Regions from separate parts of the Homo sapiens genome. Here region 1 is linked to region 2. Evidence: fine-mapped expression QTL. Tissue or cell type: naive CD8 T cells. Region 2 holds a variant in brackets; the other region holds the start of a gene. All regions are shown on one strand. Distances are between the middles of the regions. Region 1 holds the start of MEAK7 (MTOR associated protein MEAK7). Region 2 has its middle 39 kb from the start of MEAK7.

Region 1 (8,000 bases), 39 kb before region 2:
AGGCGGCTGTCCCCAGCTCTGAAACAGAGGGGCTGCACCGGCTGAGTCTGGGTGCTGCAGGGACACAGCCCAAGCAGCCAAAACAAAGCAGACCCACCCTCTGCATCAACTCGAAGAGCCTGCAAGGTGGGCCACACCATCTCCTGAGGTCAGGAGTTCGAAACTAGGTTGGCCAACGACATGAAACCCCATCTCTACTAAAAATACAAAAAAATTAGCCAGGCATGGTGCTGTGCACCTGTAATCCCAGCTACTTGGGAGGCTGAGGCAGAAGAATTGGTTGAACACGGACAGCGGAAGTCGCAGTGAGCCGAGACCACGCCACTACACTCCAGCCTGGGCAACAGAGTTAGACTCGTCTCAAAAAAAAAAAGAAAAAAAAAAAAAAAAAAAAGAGGGGAAACAGAGACAAGGGCATGGGGATGGGTGTGGCCTGGGGGTGTAACAAGAAGAGTGAAGAGTGGAAAAGGTCCCAAAGGTCACATTCCAGCTGAGTCTTCAGAGACTCACAGGTGATTCACCAGGAAGTGGGAACAGCACGCACGGGGCATAAGCAAGAGCGTTGGGATCAGCGAGGCAAGGGTGGAACTCAGGGCACGTGGGGGAGGGCAGCAGAGGGCTGCAGCAGAAGGGGGCCCAGGCCTGACTCCACCCAGCCCCTCACTTCCATCCCACCCCAACTCCCACTTTCTGCCAGAAACAGGCTCCCCCACTGTGGTCGGAGAACAGCAGCAGGGTGCAGCCTGGCCAGCCCTCACCAACCCCAGACAGCCGGGAGAAAGGTGCAGGGCTGGGCAAGTGCCAACAGGCAGGACAGGAACCCAGAAATGCACAGAAGCGGCGCAGACCAGGGCAGGCCCAGGAGATGACAGGAAAGGCTTGGACGCAGAGCCAGGCTGGCAACGCCACTTTTTCAAGCAGGAGAGAGGAGGTTGCATGGGAGGCCCCAGTAGGAACCCCAGGGCTGGTGCCAGTGAGGTGGGAAGGTGGGCAGCCCCTAAGAACACAGCGCTGTCCACAGCACTGCCATTCTTAGTACCTGCAGAGTGCTGGTGAAGGGACACGTCTCAGAACGGCTCAAGGACAGCCCGTCTCCTTTGAGAGCCCCGTGCCAGGCAAGATAAAGAAATGGCAATGGTGTGGTGGCTCACGCCTGTAATCCCAGCACTTTGGGAGGCCGAGGCGGGTGGATCTCCTGAGGTCGGGAGTTCGAGACTAGCTGGACCAACATGGAGAAACCCTGTCTCTACTAAAAATACAAAATTAACCGGGTGTGGTGGTGCATGCCTGTAATCCCAGCTACTTGAGAGGCTGAGGCAGGAGAATTGCTTGAACCCAGGGGGCGGAGGTTGCAATGAGCCAAGATCATGCCATTGCACTCCAGCCTGGGCAACAAGAGTGAAACTCGGTCTCAAAAAAAAAAAAGACAATGCACGCTGGTGCTGGTGCTGACAGCGCACATCAAGGTTGCTTGTACCAGTGGAGCTCGACTGGAGCAGTTTCGTCCCCCAGGGGCATTTGGCAATGACTGGAAAAGTGTGTGGTTGCCACAACTGGGGGAGGGGAGTGCCGTTGGCATCTAGCAGGCAGAGGCCAGGGATACTGCTAAAAATCCTACAGTGCACAGGATGGCCTTACGACGAGGAAGTGTCCGTCCCAGACATCGGTAGGGCTGAAGGTGAGAAAACCTGGCTTCTGAGGATGTAGGGCAGCGGAACAAAATGGAAGCGGAACTTGATACAAGGGAACCCACAGAAGTCTCGAGGCCAATGTAGGGTTGTGTTATGCACAGCTTTGCAGAGAAGAGGCCACCCCATGTACCCAGGTGTACTGTGAAAGTCCCATGACACCGAGAAAACTTGCCAGGGACTGAAAGCTTTCCATCATCAAGCCTATAATCCCAGAACTTTGGGAGGATCATTTGAGGCCAGGAGTTTGAGACCAGCCTGGGCAACATAGTGAGACTTCGTCTCTGCCAAAAATACAAACCTCAGCCGGGTGTGGTGGCGTGTGACTATAGTTCCAGCTATTCAGGAGGCTGAGGTGGGAAGATCGCTTGAACCAGGAGGCAGAGGTCGCAGTGAGCCAAGATCACAACAGTGCACTCCAGCCTGGGTGACAGAGCAAGACTCTGTCTCATAAAAACACAAACAAAAGTTCCAGCAGCCCATAATAAGTGACCAAGATGTTTTGCTTGACCAGACTTTAGTCAGGCTCCTGGGCCCATCTGTGTACCTCTTTGTAAAATCTGGTTTTAGCAAAACAAAAAACAAACAAACAAAAAAACCCACAAAACCACTCATCCTTGATATTTGATCACCATTATCTGTTCACTTGCTATCTAACCAGGTTTAATGCTTAGGTTAGGGATATCCAATCTTTCAGTTTCCCTGGGCCACACTGGAAGAACTGTCTTGGGCCACACATAAAACCCACTAACAATAACTGATAAGTGCATATATCTACATATATGGTAAAAAAAAAATCTCATGTTTTAAGAAAGCTTATGAATTTGTGTTGGATGTCATTCAAAGCCGCCTTAGGCCACATATGGCCCACGGGTTGGACGAGCTTGCCCTAGGTGATGTCTGATCACCCTGGCCTGCCTTCAGTAACAAACTGCTAGGTAAGCTTACCCAGAATCCACCCTAGCGCCCTGATGTTTCCTCAGTCATCTTCCATCCACTGATCCCCACCCTGCTTCCTGGCTTCCCACTTGCCCATGCTATAATCAGAGTTGAGCCCAATCTCTCTCCTTTACTACAAAATCCCATTGCTGTGGTCCCTATACCCATTGCAATGGTCTTCAATAATTAATGTGCTTTTAATAAGCATCATTAATTAATTTCTTTAACATAAGGTTGAGAAGATTAAATAAGGTAACCCAGGGCATTTGATCTGCTTACTGGAGGTCAGAGACAGAATAATGGGCCCAAGACAACAGAGAATGGCTCCTTGGGATCTTGTCTTAGAACAAGAGAAACTGCCCTGCTTGGAAGAAACGGAAGGTTGCTCTGCCTCCGTGATGGAGGGGTGGACAGGGACCGATTGTCTGCAGGATGGCCCCCAAGGTTCCCACTAGTATCCTAGGAATGGCTTAGTCACCTCCTGCTCAGAGCTTCTCCAACAGGCTGTTACATGGCTGCTTCCCACCCTGGCTGCCAAGCTCCAACTCTCTACTCCAAGGGCCCCGCATCCCTAGAGCCACACAAGGGTCCCTCCGTACCCCCACAAGCTGGGGAGATTCCAACTGCCTCATCTGGACAGGCTTCGAAGTCCTGTCTGTGTCTCAGAGCCCAGAGGCCCTTGTGCGAAGGGGCAGCTTGAGCCTGGGCAAGAAGTTCCTGTGGGCCAGAAGGTGACCTGTCCTGTGCTGGCCACCTACATGGCCTGGGAACAGTTATCAGCTCACTGTCCTGGAAAAGCCCAGATGGGTGTGGTCAGAATACAAGAAGGAAAACCCCCTCCACACACACTTCAGTGTCTACCCCAGACTCGCCTCCTCCGTGGAGGCACCCCTCCCTTTCCGCGTCTACACAGGCTCTGAATCCCCCTTCAACACGGCTGGCCTTGGCCCTGGGGGAAGCACCTCGCCACCCTCTTACCTTGACCACATAAACAGCGGGAGGTGCAGGATGATTCTGATCCCCCCCAGGAGACCCTCCCTCCATCCCGCCCCGCTGTCCCCACCCCTCACCTCCCCGCAGCCTTCACCTCTCCCTCCCCCGACCCGAGGGCCTGAAGAGGCGTGGGAGGCCAGGGAGGGGCAGGGCCCAGGCCTACTCTGGACCCGTCTGCTCCAGTCCCCCGACTCAGCTGGGCCTGCGCCTCTGGGTCAGCTCACTGCGAACCTCAGCCCAGGTACCTACCCTGCCGGGCTTCCTGGTGCTGTCCGGTCCGGTCCAGCAGCCCACGGGCTCCTCTCGAGAGCCGCCCCTTCCCTGTTGCCAGGCAACATTGCTGAGGGGCAGTCATTTGGTCCAATCGTGGAAGCGGAGGTGTGGGGCGGAACCCAAGAGAGGAGTCAGCCAATGGTGACGCGCCTCACAGGGAGTGAGCCGAACCCGGTGGGTGCGGCTCGGGGCGGGGCCGCGGTCTGCGGGAGGAGCGGCTGCAGGCCCGGGAATCCGGCCCGGCTGCGTGCGTACCAAGGAGGCGCCTGGAGAGGGCGGCCAATGACTCAGGCCAGGCCAGGCCAGCAGTGGTACCTGGGGAGAAGGGGTGTCTGGGCTGGGCGCTGGAGCGGAGTAGCCAGGGTGTGGGAGATCCTGGGGGAGAGGCTGAGCTTGGGGGTGAAGACACCCGGGGGAGGAGAGTGGCCCATGTGGAGCCCATGCAGAGGCCTCTGCAGTGCAGCCTCCTGGGCCCCAGGCAACTCTCCCCTGACTCCCCGGCCTGCTGGTCCTGGCCTAGAGCCTCGGGTCCGCCTCCCCTCGGGCCTCCCTCTGCCAGCTGCCCCTGCCTCGCTCTTCCCTGGCACCAGGTCCTTCCCGGCAGCCATCAGGCGCCAGCTCCACAGCCTGGCTAAACAGACTCCCTCCACCCCACGTGCGCCTCTTCAGCCGGTTCCCGTTCACTCCAAGACGTCTGAACCTGTCACCCCACTTCTTCAGCTCGTTCCTTCTCAAACCCACCGAAACCTGGTCCCGGGGGCCTGCTCACTACATCCGAGGTGCGCTTTGGGTCCTCGCAGGCAGCATTTGGCGCTTGGTGATCGTGCTCTCATCAGACCTCTCTCTTGGGCACCCCGGCGCCCATTCCTGGCCCTGGCTCGCTCGCTGTCCCTGGTGGTCTTCCCTGGGCCCTTCTGGCTTCTGCCCTGGAGTTTCTCGACTTCTCCCTACTCTCTCCACCCCACGCATCCTCCCTGGGGTCCACCTTCCTGCAGATTCAGCTCCCGCATGTCCATGGTACCAGTTCTCTCCCCTGCACGGCCTGCTGGTTTTCCAGCCTGGAAAACCGTGACTTCGCCCGCCAACGTCCGCTTGAGTTGGTCTCGAACTCCTGACCTCAGGTGATCTGCCTGCCTCGGCCTCCCACAGTGCTAGAATTGTAGGGGTTAGCCACTGCACCCGGCTGGTCACCTCTTATTCTTTAAGCTGGAACAAAAATAGAAGGCTTTCTGCCTGAGGGCAGCAGGCCTGGCTGGTGACAGTGCACAAGGTAGGGCCCCTCACCAAGACATTGCTCTGAGATCCAAGGCCAATGTCCCAGGAGAAGCAGCTCCACAAACTAACGCATCTACAGCCAGGGTACCCCCAGCTGTGGATGCCAATGACACGAGTAGCCCCAGCTCTTCACCTCGGCTTCTTAGAGTAGGTGCCTGTCACCTGCAGCCAGGGCTCCTGATGCCCAAGACACACGGGCCTTTAGACATGAAGGACTAGACCCTGTTTCCAGCCTTCACACCCCTGTACTTCCTGCACACATCAACCAGGTGTGTCTTTTTCAGTGCCATCCGAGGTAGTGGCATTTTTGACATAGCAACAGTTTTTTGTAGGCTGAGGCACACCAAGGGTGGACAGCAATGGTGGCCTCTCAGGTGCAGGTACTGGGGGGTCCGCAGGAGCAAACCGGAGCCGATGTGTCAGCCTGGGCAACATAGTGAGACTCCATCTCTACAAAAAATGAAAAGCTTGGCCGGGCGTGGTATGGCACACCCGTAGTCCCAGCTACTCAGGGAGCCGAGGCAGGAGGATCGCTTGAGCCTCAGAGGGCGAGACTGCAGTGAGCCGTGATTGCACCACTGCACTCCAGCCTGGGCAGGAAAGTGAGATCTTGTTATTAAAACGGTGAAACAAAATCCCCCAGAAAACCACAGAAGCAAATGCGGAGCGGCGCCGTTTGAGAGCTACCGAAGTGGCGCCACCTCGTGGCCATACCCTCCAGAAACAGCCTACACTCCAATCTGCCCACCTGCCTGGTTGGAAAGTTTCTGTTTTTGATGGAGTTTCACTCTTGTTGCCCAGGCTGGAGTGCAATGGCGCAATCTCGGCTCACTGCAGCCTCCACCTCCCAGGTTCAAGCAATTCTCCTGCCTCAGCCTCCCGAGTAGCTGGGATTACAGGCATAGGCCACCACACCCAGTTAATTTTTATATTTTTAGTAGAGACGGGGTTTCACCACGTTGGCCAGGCTGGTCTCGAACTCCTGACCTTAGGTAATCCACCCACCTCGGCCTCCCAAAATGCTGGGATTACAGGCATGAGCCACCGCCCCTGGTATTCTCAATTTTTTTAAATAAGAGATTTATATTGCTTGACATTTTGCATATAAAGTGAGACTCTTTTAAAAATATACATCATGCTATTTCAACAAGCTGGTGCTCCCGGGGATGTCCATGGGCTGTCCAACTGCCCCCGGGGCACCAGCTTCTGTTTTTTATGCTGACTTTGGGCACTGAACTCTCCTTGGCTCCCAGAGGTCCTGACCAGGCTGGTCCTGCCATCCACAGCGGTGCCTCTGCTAGCGACATCCCTGCCCAATTTTCCATGTCCAGCTTTGACACCTCCACAGAAAGGCTGAGCCACCACCGGGCCCCCATTGTGGCTGAGCATCCACTCTCTCTTCCCCATGTGCTCCTTGCCCCCGACTCCCCATCTCTGGAACCCAAGTTTGGGCTGCATGGACCACCTTCTGGGCCAGGCTGTTAGGAGGCCACCACCAAGCAGCAAACGCAGGAGCAGCCGTGCCCTGAGGAGGCACCACCAGCAGCCTCCAGCAGCACTCGGTGAGGCGGGCAACGATCCATCTGTGCCGCCAGCATGGAGCCGGAAGCCACGGCTGACTTGTGCAGTAGAGGAAGTCGAGTTCATTTTATTGAATTTATTCTCATTTTCAGTTTGAATGGCCACATGTGGCAGGCAGTTATTCTATTGTGCAGTGCTTGCCGGACCACATGCAACAATTCAAAATTGAAAATCAAAAATAAATGTACGGCTCACCCACTAGGATAGCTAACGTTTTTGTTTTGTTTTTGAGACAGGATCTTGCTCTATCACCCAGTCTGGAGTGCAGTGATGCAATCACGGCTCAGCTCACTGCAGCCTCGACCTCCCAGGCTCAAGCCATCCTCCCACCTCAGCCTCGTAAGTAGCTGGGACCACCGGCGTACCCCACCACACCAGGCTATTTTTATTTTTTGTAGAGATGGGGCCTCGCGATGTTGCCCAGGCTGGTCTCGAACTCCTGGGCTCAAGCGATCCTCACACCTTGACCTCCCAAAGTGCTGGGATTACAGACATGAGCCACCATGCCCGGCCTAAGAGGGCTAAAGTTTTTTAAATAGCGAGTGTTGGAGAGGAGGTAGTTCTCTCCTCCCGCACTGCTGGTGAAATGGTTCAGCCATGGGGGAAATCAGTCCTCAAAAAGTTAAACAGAGTTACCATAGGACCAGCAGTCCCACGCCTAGATACACCACAAAGCTGAAAACCTGTATTCAAACACACACTAGTACTGGATGTTCAAGCAGCACTGTTCACGATAGCCTAAAGTGGAAAAAAGATAAAAGCCCATCTGAAGAATGGATAGACAAGATATGGTATATCCACACAATGGAATAATATTTGGCAATTTAAAAAAAAGGAATGAACCACTGACACATTACAACGTGGATAATCCTTGAAAATCTGATGTTATGGCCAGGCGCAGTGGCTCATGCCTGTAATCGCAGCACTTTGGGAGGCCGAGGTAGGTGGATCACCTACCTCGGTGGATCACCTGAGCTCAGGAGTTTCAGACCAGCCTGGCCAACATGGTGAAACCCTGTCTCTACTAAAAATACAAAAATTAGTCGGGCATGGTGGTGGGCGCCTGTAATTTTAGCTACTCAAGAGGCTGAGACGTGAGAATTGCTTGAATCCAGGAGGCAGAGGTTGCAGTGAGCCAAGATCGCGCACTGCACTACAGCCTGGGTGACAGAGTAAGACTTTGCCTCAAAAAAAAAAAAAAAAAAAAACTGTGGTTACGTGAAAGCAGCCAGACACAAAGGACCACATATT
Region 2 (11,657 bases):
AGCCGCCTCTCCCAAGGAAGCGGATTCGACTCTGGGAGATAAATCTTCTTCGCTTCCTTCCTCTCTGAGACGATTATGAAGAAAGTGCTCCCATAGTCCTGGCAGGAACAAAGGCCCTGTGTCCAGAGAGGCTCCCCCACCCGACCTCTCATGCATTATGAATGGGGCCTCAAGATCATTTCACAAGCTTTTCACGCTCCGAAATGGCCACTCCCCAGCCTTAGGCTGCCCAGCTGTCGGAGACCCCTTGGCCCCTTCAGGGCTATGTCCCCCATGGCTCCTTCACGCCAGCCCCAGGGGACTGACAACCTCTCAGCCATAAATGTCAGCCAGGCCTTCTGCCGATGCCACCGGGGGATGCGGAGGGTAATCGGGACATGCTCTGTTGTCCCATCAGTAAAATTATTAGGAATTTCAAAGAATTAAATCCCAAGCACAGGCCCTTCTGAGTGCAGGGCCCTTGGCTGCTGCCCTGGGAGATAATTACCCACGAGACTGGCCCTGACTGTAGCTATAATTTCAACTTATCCATCACCCTGATTCTTTGACTCAGGAAAGTTATTCATTAAATAAATATTTTTCTAAGAATTTCAGAGCATCCACTAAAGCAGACCATAGATCTGCACCATAACCCAGCATTTTCACTGTGTATACACCCAGAAGGGGGATGTGTGTGGATAAGGAGTTGAACTAGAATGTTCTTTGCAACACTGTTCACAATAGCCCCACATTGGAAACCACCCAAATGCCCATCAATAGTAGAATGGCTAAATAAATGTGGTCTGTCCAAGTGATGGAAAACCACACAGAAAGAAGAATGGCTTCAAACTACACACAATATGGCCGACTCTCACAAACAATACGGAATGAAAGAAGCCAGACACAACAGCGTACACAGCATATGGTTCTGTGCTGTTGGAAGTTCGAGTCACGCTTACTGTTGAGGGTGACTCAATAGGGGGCATGAAGTGGGGCTTGGGGGCTGACACTAGTGTGTTATTGACCTGAATGCCATTGCATGGTTGTGCTTAGTGTGTGAGTGTTCTTGGAGCTGTACACTTCAGACGTGTGCACTTCTCTGTATATACTGTATCTCAATAAAAAATAAAAGTTGCTTCTCAGAATGGGGGCTTAAAAAATAAAAATAAGGCCGGGCGTGGTGGCTCATATCTGTAATCCCAGCACTTTGGGAGGCCAAGGCAGGCGGATCACCTGAGGTCAGGAGTTCAAGACCAGCATGGCTAACATGATGAAACCCCATCTCTACTAAAAATACAAAAATTAGCCGGGTGTGGTGGCACATGCCTGTAATCCCAGCTACTCATGAGGCTGAGGCAGGAAAATCACTTGAACCTGGGAGGTGGAGATTGCAGTGAGCCGACATCACGCCACTGCACTCCAACCTAGGCAACAAAGCTAGACTCCATCTCAAATAAATAAATAAATAAATAATACAAATCAAAAAGTAAAAGTAAAAGATAAATAAATAAACCTTTCTAGAGGGCTCACTGTGAGAAGCCTTAGGGAGGTTAAGGAGCTGACTCTGCCCCTCCTCAGTGCAACTCTTCCTTCCAGTCCTTGGTTTCCTTTGACTGCAGCTCCCTGACAGTAGATGTGATTCTGCGACACTCAGAATACCTCCTGGAGTACAGAGGTACGAGAGTGAACCAGTAGGCTCGACGCCCTAACGTACGGTGCCTGGATGTCCTTTTTGAATCTGTTGATGGTTTCTGTTTAGGTTCTGTTAACATTGGATGAGCACCCAATGTGCCAGGTCCTGGGGACACAAGGATGAGGAAGTCCCTGCCCTCAAAGAGCTCAGGATCTGGAGAGAAAGGACCCCTCAATTAGAGTCCAGTGTGTTAAATGCCCCCCAGGGAGACTCGGGAGGATGAGGGAGGCTGGGAAGATTCTACAGGCCCAGGGAGAGAGGCCAGTGGAGAATGAGGGGTGAGGGGAACTCCCAGTGGCTCAGGACCCACTAGGCCTCAATGTGCGATGGGCATCAAGAGGCTGAACTTGCTGGCATCAGGGGTCCTGCCAACACTCCTCAGAATCTCTGATTTACAGTATCGGGGTAGTCACATGAGAACGAAGCTCAGCTACAAGTGCACACTACAGCATTGTTTAAAACAGTGACAAAATGGAAAGCAAGCTACGTTTCCAAAGATGGAAGATTAACCCAAAGAATGATAGAGGGGCCAAATGAGGGGACTCTGGTAGAACCTGGAAGTGATGCTGGGGAAGACTGTTTCATGATTCTCAAGGCCCATGGATGAGCTGGGATTTGACCCTCTGTGAAAGCCCCCAGGTGAGCCTGCTGCAGTGCCATGGTTGCTGGCAGAAGACACGAGCCTCCTGGGTCAGAGACAAGTGACTTTATTACTCGCAGCACAGCAAGTAGCATGAGCTTTATGTTTGCATCGGTTTCCCTTGTCCCCAAGTCCCACAGGGGCCATGCAAAGGGGCCCGGAAGGGGTGGGTGTTGCGCACACAGCACATTTCTCACAGCTGAGGATCCCTGAGCTCAGGGAGCCCAAATTTCTTATAAGAAATCCTGATCCTTGCCCTGGGGGCAAACATCTATCTATATTGGACAGAAAACAAATTTGCCCTTTGATCTGAGGGGACACACTGTCTCTGTCTAACAAAGTTGTTTGCTATATAAACATCCTTGTAAAGATAGTTCTTCTACTTGCAAGACATGTAGAAACCTGAGAGACCCATGGAGAACTGTCTCCCAACAATGACACAGAAAGAAAATTTAGGCCGGGCATGGTGGCTCACGCCTGTAATCCTAGCACTTTGGCAGGCTGAGGCGGCTAGATAACCTGAGGTCAGGAGTTCGAGACTAGCTTGGCCAACAAGGCGAAACCCTGTCTCTACTAAAAATACAAAAATTAGCCAGGCATCATGGCATGCACCCAGCTACTTGGGAGGCTGAGGTGTAGTCCCAGCTACTTGGGAGGCTGAGGCAGGAGAATCACTTGAACCCAGGAGCCGGAGGTTGCAGTGAGCTGAAATTGCTCTACTGCACACCAGCCTGGGTGACACAGCAAGACTCCATCTCAAAAAAAAAGAAAAGAAAAGAAAAAATTTAGAGTCGCCAAGAAACAGATAACAAAACAGTATACATGTGTGAATCTGCACATTTGGTGTCTGCATGTGCATATTACGTAGGCACTAATACAAGCCCAGCAGAATATTCCCACAAATGTTCACAGGGGTTCTTGCTGGGCTTTCGTTCTATGATGAACAAAATAGTGACCATTGTACCTAGTAATCAATAGCCAACCCTTGCTATATGTTTGTAACATTCCAACCCCTGTTCTGAGCACATTACAGGTATCACCTCATTTAATCCTCATGACAAGCTGTGAGTCAGGAGCTGTTTATCATCTCCATTTTCAAGATGAAGCAAACCGAGGCCTGGAGTGGTCACTCAGTGGGGATTGAGTAGAGTTAGGATTCTGAATCCAAGTAGTGTGGCTGCAGGCTCCATCCTTTTTTTTTTTTTTTAGACAGGGTCTCATCGTTGCCGAGGCTGGAGTGCAGTGGTGTGATCTCAGCTCGCTGCAACCTCCGCCTCCTGGGCTCAAGCGATTCTCCCACCTCAGCCTCCTGAGTAGCTGGGACCACAGGCGCACACCACCACACCTGGCTAATTTTTGTAATTTTTGTAAGATGGGCTTTTGCCATGTTGGCCAGGCTGATCTTGAACTCCTGACCTCAAGTGATCTGCCTGCCTCGGCCTCCCAAAGTGCTGGGATTACAGGCATGAGCCACTGTGTCCAGCTTCATCCTCTTAAAACCACATTCCTTATGCCTTGAATAAAGCCTTATTATTATAGCAGAAAACGCCCTCTTTCCAGCAGCCTTTTATTTATAGATTTAATAAGTCTAAAATAGAAAGACAGGAATTGTTTTCTCTACTCAGAAAATTAAGTGAATCGAAAACCGACCGTAGTGGAATATGACGACTGTGTAATAACAGGCAAATGCAAAAATGATCACATCAAATGGCAGTTTATATAATTTATATGAAGCAATATTGCAAATTTATTTTAAAATACATATGCACAGGAAAAAAGCACTAGAACAAGATATACGAAGCTATGACTGTGTTTGCTTTAGGGGGCTGAACTCTTGGTGAATTTATTTTCTTTACTCCATTTTCTGAATTTTTCATAATGCAGTTATAGTTCTTTTATAATGAAAACAGTTATAAAAATGTAAAAAACAAAATGAAACAATGAAACAGATCTTGGGCTAGTAGAGAAAGCGAAGTCTAATCTAGACTAAAGGCTGTAAATTGGCCACTAGCAGGTCTGACTTGCCTGAAGAATGTTTTGCTTGGCTGAGTCTTTGTTGTTTAAAAAAATATATGCATTAGCCTCTGTCACTGTAAAGTCAGGAGATTTCAGATAAAACTCCATCTTTCCCTGGACGCTTGTATTCCTATGACCCAGCAAGTCCACTCCTAGGATATACGCAATAGAAATGTACACACCAAAAGCCTAGAATGTCCTAGAATGTTCATAGCAGCTCTCTTCATAATAGCTTCAAATAAGAAACCACCCCAATACTCATCACAGTGGAATGGGTGAATAAATAGGGGTGTAAATTTGTGAAAATCATGTATTGGTTGATGTCTTCTGTCTCCCCAAAACATATACAACCAACCATGAAAAACTGTGCAAAAGTTGAGAAAGAATGATTTACAACTAAACCCTAAATTTGTATGGAGTTCAGACACGACGGGGAGGGAAAGCAGCCAGACAAAAAGTCCACCCTGTGTGTAAAACATTAACACAAACCAGCAAAGCCAAGCTCAGGTGTTAGGTCCAGGCAG[C/A]GGTCAGCTCGGGATGAGGGTGGGGGCTGTAGCCTCAACTTCCCAGGCTCAAGCCATCCTCCCACCTCAGCCTCCTGAGTAGCTGGGACTCCAGGCCTGCACCACTATGCCCAGCTAATTTTTAATCTTTTTTTTTTTTTTTTTTTGAGACAGAGTTTTGCTTTTGTTGCCCAGGCTGGAATGCAATGGTGCAATCTTGGCTCACTGCAATCTCCTCCTCCCGGGTTCAGGCGATTCTCCTGCCTCAGCTTCCCGAGTAGCTGGGACTACAGGCATGCACCACCATGCCCAGCTAATTTTGTATTTTTAGTAGAGACAGGGCTTTGCCATGTCGGCCAGGCTGGTCTCCAACTTCTGCTCCTGACCTCAGGTGATCTGCCCGCCTTGGCCTCCCAAAGTGCTGGGATTACAGGCGTGAGCCACCGCGCCCAGCCTTTAAATTTTTTTTTACAGTGATAGGGGTCTCATTATGTTGCCCAGGCTTGTCTCAAACTCCCGGGCTCAAGTGATCCTCTTGCCTCAGCCTCCAAAAGTGCAGGGATTGCAGTCGTGAGCCACTGCACCCAGCCCATATTTTTTTAAGTCAACCTACTGTGTGATTTTTTTTTCTGCCTTTCTCAGCATAACTCTAAGCAATAATGTCCACGAAGTCAGGGTTTCAGTGAGCTATAGAGTTCAGCAGTCAACAACACAGACAGTGGATCCAGAATGTCTAGGTTTAAAGCCTGCATCCTCTACAGTTGTGTGACTTTGGGCAAGTTACTTAAACTTCTTGGTCCTCAGTTTTCCCATCTGTAGAATGGGAATAATAATAATACCACATATCACAGGGTGGCCGAAAGGATTAAATGAGTGAATTATGTAGAGTTCTTAGAACAGCTGTGGGCATGCAGTGGTGTGCTGGTAACTGTTTAACAATGGCTTGGAAGGAAGGCCTTTACTGATTTCCAATTTCCCTGGTGTAAACACTTCCATTGTGGCTGATTTCAGGCTACCAATGAGAGGTCACTAAAGGTGGTTTTGGTAAAGGGGCCACTAGGTCATCCCAGGGTTGAAATAAGCAACTCTGTGACCACAGCCCAGATGTGCGTTTTGGAACAAAACCTAAGGAACCGTGGACAAGCCTTCTGACTTTAACTCTCTGGTTTGTTTTACGAGTCAGGGTCTCGCTCTGTCACCCAGGCTGGAGTGCAGTGGCACCATCATAGTTCACTGCAGCCTCGAACCCCTGAGCCCAGGTGATCCTCCCACCTTAGCCTCTTGAGTAGCTGGGACTACAGGCATGCCACCACGCCCAGCTAATTAAAAAAAATTTCTTTCATAGAGACAGGGTTTTGCCATGTTTTCCAGGCTGATATCACACTTCTGGGCTCAAGTGATCCCCCGCTCCAGCCTCCCAGAGTGGGATTACAAGCGCGAGCCACTGCGCCTGGCCTAGCCTCTGACATTAACTCTTATAAAAACACTGGAAAAGAAATATGACTCATGGGAAATTAAATAGCTGTCTTGTCCTTATAATGGATTCCTAGGGGTTCCCAGAGCACTCTGGGATGTGTGCACAGGGTCCTCCCTGCCAGGTGTCCCCAAGGGGAACATTCATTACAAACAGCGTTCACGCCACCTTCCTGCTTACCTGGTGCCCTGGCCTCGGCCGTCCCCTACCTTCCCTTTCTGGATTTATTAAAGATTCTTTTTACTTCTGTACACGTAACTCATGGAGGTGCCAGTTTGACCTTTGGAGAAATCTGTGTACAGCTCATCTCAACTTTCCCCACTTTTTATGTCATGAAGCCTGATCTACACACAGTTCGGAATTGCCCCCACACTCCCCCGCAGTCATTGTCACACTGCCAATATTTTACAACGGGAACGGAACACCTGTTTGCCGAGCACCCACGAGGGCCCAGGCATCCTCTTAGGTCTGGAACAGAGAAGGAAGGAAGCCAACGAAGCCACCCCCGAACACCGGCATCTGACAGAGGAGGCAGGCGGCGCCGGAGAACCCGAAGCAAACCATGTCATTGCAGCCCGAGACTCCTGCAAAGAAAATAAAGCAGACGAAGGGGCCTGGAGGCCTGAAACCTGGGCCGGGGGCATCAGGGGCTGCACACACCCTCATTTCACACCATCTGGGCATTTCCTCTGTGCCCCAGAGTCCCCAGGATCATTTCGTTTAAATGTGCAAAAATGAAATTCAATTTCTAACTGCACTCCGTGTGCTTATGAAGTAGTAGAAAACTCGGAAAGGTGGCACTTTAGGATAATTGACCTCGTTCAGGCTCAAAAGCCCCTTTGGCCAGTTCCTGGGTAAATTCAGGATTTGCATTCCATCGGGGCTATTCTCGGGTGTCCTCTCCTCCTGGCTGACCCCTGAGCCTGAATCCTGGGATTATTTTTAAAGCCTGGATATCACGCTGCTTCATGGTGCCGTGCAAAGCACTTGGTGTTTCCGTTACAGGGGGGACACCTGCCTGCTTCCAATTTTCGGCACTATAGATGATGCACGCTGCTGTCTCTGGAGGAATGTCACAGGATAATAGCTCATGTTCGAGGACTGCTTAGCCGGCCTGAAAGTTTTTGCAAGTATTAACTTATGTAATTCTCCCAACTCTCCTTGAGCAGAAGTTGCTATTGTTAGCTCCATTTTACAGATGGAGAAACTAAGGCACGGAGAGGTGAGGTGACGATAAGTGGCAGAGCTGGGATCTGAAGTGTCACAGAGAAGGGTGGGGAGGAGCTGGCACAGAGAGAAACAGCAAAAGTGGATTGCCTTCGCTCCATGCTCAGGACAAGTCTCCCTCTGATTAAGTGCACTGTGTTGAGAGGCCCCTGGGGAAGGTCTCAAAGCCATCACCCACAGCACAGATGGTGGAAGCTGGCACCCCTGCCATGCTGTGCTGGAAGTGTGCTTTGGTTACAGCCTGTGTGAAGGGCGACTTGACAGAGGCTGTCTCCATGTCAAAGGTGCATGTCCTGACCAGGGGCGGTGGCTCACGCCTGGAATCCCAGCACTTTGGGAGGCCGAGGTGGGTGAATCTCCTGAGGTCAGGAGTTTGCCAGCCTGGCCAACATGGTGAAACCTCGTGTCTACTAAAAATACAAAAATTAGCCAGGCATGGTGGCAGACACCTGTAATCCCAGCTACTCTAGAGGCTGAGACAGGAGAATCACTTGAACCCAGAAGGCAGAGGTTACAGTGAGCGGAGATCGCGCCACTGCACTCCAGCCTGGGACAGAGCGAGACTCCATCTCAAAAAAAATAAAAAATAAAACATGGTGCACGTCCTCTTTTGACCCTCTGCTGGCTATCTGTCCTCGGGAAATACCTGCCCATGTGCATGAAGAGGCATGGATGCTTATGCAGGGATGTTCCTTGCAGCATTGTTTGCAACAGTAAAGAATTGGAAATATCCTAAAATGCTCATCAGTAAGTGAGTGGTTAAATGATGGTACATTTACACTATGGAATCTGTTACCATAAGAAAGAATGCTATGTCTATATCTGGGTTTCTCAACATGGGTACAAGTGACATTTGGGCTGGATCATCCTTTGTGGTTGGGGGGGGGAGTGTCCTGTGCATTGCAGGAGGTTTAGCGGTATCCCTGGCTCTACCTACCAGATGCCAGTAGCACCAGCCTCCTTGGTGTGACACCCAGAAATGCATCCAGACATTGCCGAGTGTTCCCTGGGGGCAAAATTGCCCGTGGTTGAGGACAGCCAGTCTATATGCAGTGAAGTATAAAGGTCTCCAAAACAGACTAATACATGAAAAAAAAAGTTACAGAACTGTCTGCATTAAAAAAATACAATGCTGGTCAGGTGTGGTGGTTCAAATCTGTAATCCCAGATTTCTATTCTAAAAAATAGAAAAACGTAACTGGGCGTGGTGGTGCACACCTGTAGTCCCAGCTATTCAGGAGGCTGAGGTAGGAGGATTGCTTGAACCCGGGAGGCAGAGGTTGCAGTGAGCCGTGATGGCACCACTGCACTCCAGCCTGGGCAGCAGAGCAAAATCATGTCTCAATAAATAAATAAATAAATAAATAAAGCTAAGCTATTTATCTATATAGACATAGATACAGATACAGAGTCATGCATTCAACGAGTTTTATTGAGCACCTGCCCCATGCCTGGAACTGTTCTTGGTGCTGAGCAAGTAACGACGATCAAAATGAAGTCTCTGCTCTACTGGAGATTACCCTCTGGAGATTACACTTTGTCTTCTGGCGGGGAAAGACAGCAATGAACAAGCGAATAGACACACGGTATCAGGTGGTGATAAGTGCTACAAAGAAACATAAGTGGGGCTCGGGGACCTCGAAAAGACACAGGTGCTGTTTTAGAATGGGGTCAGGGCAAGGTGACATTCTACTCCACTAAGGTGACATTGAGCAGGGAGCTGCATGAATGAGGGACCAGCATGGGTACTTAGAGGTCAGTGGGCTCCAGGCACAGCAGGAGTCCCCCTGAGGCAGGATGGTGCTGTGTGAGCAGGAGGCCCAGCGAGGAGACCCGAGGGCCTGCAACAGAATAAATGAGGACCGTGGTGGGCGACGAAGCCAGTGAGACATTGGGGGCACAACCACAGCCGGCCTTGTTGCATAGCACTGACTTTGCTTTTCGCCTCGAGAACTGGAGCGATCAGGAGAAAATCCAGCTTGGAATGTAAAGAGGCCACGGTGGACGGTTCTGGGAGTAACGGAAGAGAAAAGGGGGAGGGGGAGAGGGAGAGAGAAAAGGAAGAAAGGGAGGAAAGCAAGGAGGGAAGAGGGGAAACACCAGATTGTCCAGCTCACTGACGAGTTCAAATCCCAGCTCCTCCACCTCCTCAGGCAACCAGCTTCGTCTCTCTGAGCCTCAGTCTCCTGTTGTGTAAAATGGTTTAACCACGCCGCCTCTCATAGGAGAGAATGATGTCACCAAAGTTCCCACTACGGCGCTTTTTCCGTAGGTCCCAAGTGAAAACAGAAGCTTCCCTCTGTCCTGCCCCTACCCCCAGAAGACCCAGCCAACTCCTCTGCAGCAGCAGCGCTGTGGCTCAGGGGCCCCTGTTTAGGCTGTAGGCTCCATGGAGGCCCAGAGGGAATGCCTTTCCACACGTCAAAGAAACCTGAGACTCAAAGAAACCTGAGACCCTAAGGTCGTATCAACTGCAGACCTTTGGGCCTAATGGCTATTGCCACGAAGAGCCTTTTAGAAAAACATCTCAGCAGGGGCCGGGTTTGAAGGCCCCCAGGGGCTTGTGGGAGGCAACATTTTCTTCTGTCTGACAGCCCCCTCCAACTCCCCCAGCCCGGGATCCCTCCCTGACAGCTGGTGGGCTGAGCCTGCTTCCCGAGGCTGGGCTTTGGGGTTGGGGTCTCTTTGTCAGCCCAGGAATAACCCAGCACCCACCCGCCCAACCCACACACATACACAAACAGTTCATTCACCCTGCAGGAGAGGTCAGGCCCTCCCACAGCATCTGCCCAAGATGCTCGCAAATCCACGGGGACAATCCCAGGCCTGGGGCATCTCCATGTCACATAGGAGGGGGGGGGGTGCTCAGCCGAAAGCGGGGCCTCGAGAGGCTCTAAAGACAGCAGCACACGGCTGGGCGCGGTGGCTCACGCCTGTAATCCCAGCACTTTGGGAGGCTGAGGCAGGCAGATCACCTGAGGTCAGGAGTTTGAGACCAGCCTGACCAACATGGAGAAACCCTGTCGTTGCTAAAAACACAAAATTAGCTGGACGTGGTGGCAAATGCCTGTAATCCCAGCTACTCAGGAGGCTGAGGCAGGAGAATCACTTGAACCCAGGAGGCGGAGGTTGCGGTGAGCCGAGATTGTGCCATTGCACTCCAGCCTGGGCAGCAACAAGAGTGAAACTCGATCTCAAAAAAAAAAAAAAAAAAAGCAGCACAGGGCTCACTTTTCCCTCAGACCCTGCAGGGCCATGGAAACAGCCACAGGGGCTCAGGCAGCTGAAGAGAATGTTCTAGAATCCACAAAGAGCCTGGCCTGGCAGGAGCCTGGGGACCTGGAGATGCAGCCGGGTGCATCTATTCAGGCTTTCAAGCCTCCAGCAACCTGGAGACCTGCTGTCTCCACGCCTCGCCTCTCACACGGAGCCAGCCTGTGGGGCGAGTGGCTGCCTGCTTCCACCACCCCGACTCCTCCGTGTTGGTTGGCCAGGGTAATGAGAATGTGCTTGTTTTGATGAAATGTCAATCACTTGTATATAAATATCTATATTTAGGACTCCTTTAGAAAATAAGAAAATCTGGGAGCACACAGTCACCATGCAGCTGCCCTCTTTAGAAAGACACGCGCCCTCCCCTGGCCACAGTCCCCACCTCTCCCTGTTGTCTCCTTGGTGCCCAGCCTCCAGCCCTCCTCCCCGTACTTGCCAGGCCCCGGAGGCCTTGGATCCCCAGTCCCCTGCCCAGAGATGCCCCGGGGCAGCCAACCCCATGCCAGACGAGAGTCTCAACCGAGCAGGGAGGCAGGCTGAGACGCAGGAGGCCTTGCCCACTTAGAATCAGCCACCAGTGATACAGAGGGTGGAGGAGGAGAGGCAGGAGGATGGAGGAAGGACATGCCAAGGTCTCAAGCTGGAGAACACGGGGCTGATGGGGAGGTGGCAGAGACAGGGCCTGCTGGGAGAAGCAGGAAAGGCAGAGAATGTGTCCATGCGTCCGGAGCCCTGACCTGTGGTGGGGCCGTTCTGTCGGCAACCGGGACATGCGCTTGTCTGAGTTCCAGGAAGAGAGAGCTGTGTGCACATCCTGTCATCAGAGCAGCTTGAAATAAATGCCCCTATTTG

The links.
Region 1: it holds the start of MEAK7, and the variant in region 2 is fine-mapped to the expression of MEAK7 in naive CD8 T cells (Schmiedel 2018, PIP 0.95).

The regions. Positions count from the first base shown.
Region 1 is chr16:84,500,732-84,508,731 of GRCh38, forward strand. It overlaps MEAK7 (MTOR associated protein MEAK7), which reads right to left and starts at 3,928. Exons shown (of 8, transcript NM_020947.4): 1 at 3,870-3,928. LOC124903736 (a long non-coding RNA gene) reads left to right here and starts at 4,071. Exons shown (of 2, transcript XR_007065149.1): 1 at 4,071-4,204; 2 at 6,615-6,948. RefSeq lists enhancers at 3,338-3,838, 3,959-4,906, 4,269-4,388, 6,516-7,016 and silencers at 3,669-3,718, 5,904-6,023, 6,007-6,243.
Region 2 is chr16:84,537,829-84,549,485 of GRCh38, forward strand. No RefSeq gene overlaps it. Among named protein-coding and RNA genes, the nearest start is that of MEAK7, 39 kb to the left of the region's middle. RefSeq lists a silencer at 3,235-3,529 and enhancers at 6,319-6,820, 6,821-7,320, 8,810-9,561, 9,562-10,312, 11,064-11,657. The variant C/A (reference allele first, on the strand shown) is at 4,853.